2 separate regions of the Homo sapiens genome follow, and region 2 is linked to region 1. Evidence: fine-mapped expression QTL. Tissue or cell type: monocytes after Pam3CSK4. Region 1 holds a variant in brackets; the other region holds the start of a gene. All regions are shown on one strand. Distances are between the middles of the regions. Region 1 overlaps MBOAT1 (membrane bound glycerophospholipid O-acyltransferase 1). Region 2 holds the start of MBOAT1 (membrane bound glycerophospholipid O-acyltransferase 1).

The links.
Region 2: it holds the start of MBOAT1, and the variant in region 1 is fine-mapped to the expression of MBOAT1 in monocytes after Pam3CSK4 (Quach 2016, PIP 0.95).

What each region holds. Positions count from the first base shown.
Region 1 is chr6:20,167,338-20,169,837 of GRCh38, forward strand. The region is part of intron 1 of MBOAT1 (membrane bound glycerophospholipid O-acyltransferase 1); the gene reads right to left. Among named protein-coding and RNA genes, the nearest start is that of MBOAT1, 44 kb to the right of the region's middle. The variant C/G (reference allele first, on the strand shown) is at 1,154.
Region 2 is chr6:20,211,480-20,214,471 of GRCh38, forward strand. It overlaps MBOAT1 (membrane bound glycerophospholipid O-acyltransferase 1), which reads right to left and starts at 990. Exons shown (of 13, transcript NM_001080480.3): 1 at 657-990. The coding sequence starts at 755. RefSeq lists a silencer at 796-1,335 and an enhancer at 1,518-2,018.

The sequences.
Region 1 (2,500 bases):
TCTCCAAAAGTTAAAGCAATGTTTTACTTCCCCCAGTAACATATAAGGGTATGCTCTCCTCACCCTTGCCAGCATAGGGGGCTGTTAATCTGTTAAATCTTTTCAGTGAGATTGTGGAGAACTGGTAGTGCATTAATTTTAATTTGCATTTTCCTTGCTGCTGGTTGAATGCCTTTTCATTTATTACTGGCTTTGGCCAATGAGTTGATTACCCACTGAACTAACGTTTCTAAGTGTTTGTTATAAAAAGGGTGGAGTTACCCAGATGAATTGGATGCACAGATTTTAATCAGTGGTAATTGAGAATTGGTATAAAGTTAAAAGAACAAGCTATGAAGTTAGACAGCTTGAGATAAAGTCCCACCCTAATCCCCTAGTTGTACAACCTTAGCCAAATTATTTGGCCTGTCTCCAATTCTTCTTCTATAAAATAGGAACCATGCAACTACTCTCACAGAATTAAGTGAGTTAATACATGTCAAGTGATTAGCACAGTGCCTGTCACCACACGAACTGTACGATGCATGCTAGATATTATTAGTATCTCTTTTGTTCCATCAAACTCTTTACCCAACACAGTGGCAAGGAGAAAAGCTCAAAGTCACTAATTAGAGTTGATGAATTTCCCTGCACATCCTCCAGTAGGAAGCACATAAGATGAAAAGACCTCCCCAGAAACCCTACCTAGCCTACCAGATGCATAATAAGTTCCAACATAGTCAAAGAACGGGTGTGTCCTAAATCTAAAAACTCAATCAGCCCATCTTCTTTCCCAAATGAGATTTGGGCTGTTAATTGTGCTTTAAAGAGGCCACATTCATTACTTATTTTTTAATCTCTTCATTATTTATTTTAAAATTCTTAGACATACACATTTGAAATAGTAAAAATTAATCAAAAAATATAAACCCAAGCAGCATGAATCAACTAAACCCTGATACTATAGTGTCATGTTTCTTATTAAAAAGTAACTCTGAAATAGCCAGGCATAATGGCACGTGCCTGTAGTCCCAGCTACTCAGGAGGCTGAGGCAGGAGAATGGCTTGAGCCTGGGAGATGGAGGTTGCAGTGAGCTGAGATCACCCCACTGCCCTCCAGCCTGGGCCACAGAGTCAGACTCAAGAAAGACAGAGACAGAGACAGAGACAGAGA[C/G]AGAGAGAGAGAGAGAGGAGAGGAGAGGAGAGGAGAGAAGAGGAGAGGAGAGGAGAGGGAAACAGAGAAAGAGAAAGAGAGAGAGAGAAAGAGAGAGAGGGAGAGAAAGAGAGAAGAGAAGAGAAGAGAAGAGAAGAGAAGAGAAGAGAAGAGAGGAGAGGAGAGGGAAAGAGAGAAAGAGAGAGAGAAGGAGAGAAAGAAGAAGAGAGGAGAGGAGGGGAGGAGAGAGAAGGGAAGGAAAAGGAAGGGAGGGAGGGAGGAAGGAAGGGAGGGAGGGGAGAGGAGGGGAAGGGAAGGGAAGGGAAAAGGGGGGAGGGGAGGGGAGGAAGGAAGAGGAGAGGACAGGAGAGGAGAGGGGAGTGTATTTGGTTGTTTCATATCACTAAGGAGGCAGTAAGTACAAATATCATCGGGGTTTTCCCAATGGGTAAAATAAAGAGGTTAAACAAGGTCATTTAAAGAGAGAGAAGAAAACGATGGAACAGATTCCCAAGTAACATCTTTTCCCAACAACCTATGTTGTCTCCTAAACAACAACAACAAAAACTGTCTTGAACAGTTATTTTCCTGGTGGACTTAGGTAAAAACTTTATCAGTCCAAAGTGATAAAAACGTTATCACCCCATAGCCATATACGCTCTCCTGTATACCAATAATACTACTTGCTATTTAAGATGCTGCCATGAGTAAGATCTCTGGGGACAATGGAAAATGCAGAACCAGGGCTATATTTTCTTATGCAACACCCCAGGGTGTGGCCAATTATCTCAGAGTGGGTTGTGAAGTTCTCAAAAGTCTCAAAACAAAATTAATTTTAATTTGGTTTAATTTGAAAATAAAACACAATGCCATTTAGCTTTTCCAAAACAGAGATCTTATGGGGCAGGCTGGGATACAGCACAATTGTCACAACTCCAAGAGTGCAGGGACCCAAAGTTTGGTGACCATTGTGCAATGTGGGACTGACGAAATAGGAATATCTGTGATTCTGCCTGGTCCCTAGGAACTGAACTATTTTGAGCTTCTATTATGTAATCACCTTCTCCAAAATATGTGTGTATATTAAAAAGGAAACTCTGATGTGGACCAAGAGTCAAAGTAACTACAATTCTCCGTTAAAAAAAAAAAGAAAAGTAAAGAAAAAGAAAAAACCTTATCCCACCCAACAGCAAACTAGACAACAGTTTTCAAAACCGGGAAACAAGTTACCAATTATAGGTTTTTAAAAACTTAATAATAAACACGTTTTCCTGTGGTGCCTATTAATTCTCCTATCCTCCCATCTCTTGATAATTATAGGAGGAAAGAAGGGGGAGGGATTTGTATCTTTAAAATTTAACCCCACAG
Region 2 (2,992 bases), 44 kb after region 1:
TTTTAATGGTTGTAGATAATTCCTGGACAGTTCAAATAACTTCACTGGGGCCCCTCTCCTCCCCCTAACCTGTCCTACTCAGAAGCTCCAGCCCCAGGCATATGAGCCAACCGAACCCTGGGAAAACCAAAGTGTCCTTGTGTGTCCCGCATCACACACGGTACAAAATAACTGTCACCCCTGAACAAGCCTCGCCTCAGAAGTCTAAAACCCAGGTCCTGCATTCAAAATCTATAGACTACCGTCTACAGATTCATCGCGCTTGTTTTTTAAGTAGGGTCATCTAAATTAAAAACAATAACGACTTGAGGACACTGATGAAAGAAACACTGGTTTCATGTATCAGACTACTTCAGAACTTGATTACAGGAAACGAGGCAATCCCAAACTTAAAGAAAAAAAAGTTCAGTAGAACTTGCCGCGCAGGCTGTACCAATATTTTTTCACACTTACAAGGAGAAAAACACTAACACCAACTCAAGAAGGGAAAACACACACACACACACACACACACACACACACACAAAAACCAACTGTCTAGTGTGTGGCTGTAAAATACGCCATGGAGGCGGAGGGACGGTGGCTAACACTTTCGCCCGCCCCGTGCACGCGATCGCTGGGGAGCTGGGGTCGCTGCGCTCCCGGCCTGCAGTTACCTGGTCCAGCGGGATGCCCAGGAGCTCGCTGAGCGGGTGCAGGTAGGTGGAGCCCGTGGTGCGGTAGGAAAGGCTGGACGGCTGCGGCTCTGCTGCCATCCTGCATCTTCGGGAGGTGGCTGCCCCTGTCCCAGCCCGCAACACCCCCTGCTCGGCGTCCTCCCGCCCGGGTGCTCTTGGGTGGTTGCCCCGAGAGGCGCACGGCCGCCTGGTTCGCGGGGGAGCGAACGGGAGGCCGGGGAATGCGAACCGGCGCAAACTCTCGAGGCGCAAACTCTCGAGGCGCAAACTTGGCTTTGGCGCTGGCGCTGCAGCCACGGGCGCCGTAGGAGGGCCGGGCCCAAGGCGCCCCGCTTCCCGCTCCCTTCCTCTCCGCGCCCATTGGCCCGGCCGCTCGGGACGGCCCCGAGAGGAGGGAAGGAGGGAGGAAAAGTGGGGACTCCGAGCCCGGCCCCCAAGCGCCGCCCGGCCCGCCCAGCCTGGCCTGCACCGAGGCCGACCGGGAGAGGGAAAGCGACGCCAGCGGGCGCCGCCGCCTGGCCCTGCAGCTGGAGGCGGGACGCGCCTTTCCTCCTCCCGGGCTGACCGTCCTAGCCCCCCGCCAGACAAAACGACCTCACCCAGCGGGCGCCTTCCACTAGAGAGCACCACCCACCCCGCCCCACCCTGTTTTGGTTTCGCCGCCGCAGTCGAAGCGGCTGAGTGGCTGCGTTTCCCTTTCAAGCCGTAGAGGGTTCCTCTGCCGGTGGCTGGAAGCTGGAGCGCCGCAGCCACCAGACTCCCTACTTCCTTTACCCTCCTCTGCGCTAGGCATAGTTTCCTACACCCTGATCTGACATGTTCGGTGTCACACAAGCAAATACAGGGGACTGCTAGCTTCGGGTCACTTCCGTCTCTGTGGAGTGAGAGTTATTTCACCTCTGTAAGAAACGGTGTTTACTGTCATACTATGTGCATTCTGATAAGTCATTTGCATGCCACGGGTCCTCAAAAAGGGTGCCTTGCTCCTTAACTTGTCTGCCCCCGAACACCCACACATCAATGTTACTTGGAAAACTTTTCCAAGTTATTGCTAGGTTCTGAGAAACATAAAAATCTTGAAGATCCTTTTCAGGAATCGCTAGCTGATGAAAAAGGGTTTCAGGAAGGTAATATTCTGGGCTGCTGGGTAGAAAACCAAAGAAAGTGAGCTCACGTGGCCCCCAGCCTCCGCTGGGTAAACCGGCATTCGATCAGACAGGCAATGACTTTCGGGGCCGACTTTATCAATGTGGCCTCCAGCTTCAAATTAAACCGAAGGCCTGTCAGGCACTGGCAACAACTTACTCTCCAAGACTCAGGCCTCACTCTTGCCTTCTTCAGGAGTTTTATCACCATCAAACTGCACTGAGCATTAAATTGCCAGGCCAGAGTTTCTCAACCTATGTCCCCTGTGGAGGAGGAAAAAAAAAAGTCTGTACCACCACTCCCACAAGCTAACCGAATGGAGATGTCACCACCAGATGATAATCTCTACCACTCACAAGCAAACCCACACTACAGACAGACAGACACATGCACACACGCACACAGGCATATACTTGAGGATCACTAGGCTAGATAGGTTCATTTAATATCATAGAGTCCTGGAAAATGACCAGCATTGGAGCAACATTCATCTTATCTGGAGCTAGATGACAGCTGAAGTGAGGTATATGAGAGCAGACGGAGCTTTGTTTAAAAGGAAAAAAAAATCAACACTCAGATATGAGTTGCTGGAAAACAGAAGTAGGTCAGTTTGGGAAGTATTTCTGGAGCAAGTGCCTCAGACCCTTTATAATTTTCACAAAGCTATGCCTTTTAGACTTCAAAGAATAGTCCTCACATAGGCCATATATATATATGTGTGTGTGTGTGCGTGTGTATATATATTTATTATAAATATATTAATTTATATAATCATATATAAATATATTTATATATGTAAAGTTTTATATGTACATATATTAGCCTTACACAGGTTTATATATACATATATTACACAGTTTTTATATATATATATAACACAGGTTTGATATATACATATGTATATATGTATATGTAAAATATATACATGTATTAGCCTTACACAGGTTTTTTTCTCCCTAACAAAACACAGTTCATAACCTAGTCTAAATTTTTCTTTTAAAAATGGCCGGGTGCGGTGGCTTATGCCTGTAATCCCAGCATTTTGGGAGGCCGAGGCGGGCAGATCACCTGAGGTCAGGAGTTCGAGACCAGCCTGGCCAACATGGTGAAACCCCATCTCTACCAAAAAACAAAAATTAGCCAGGTGTGGTGGCAGGCACCTGTAATCC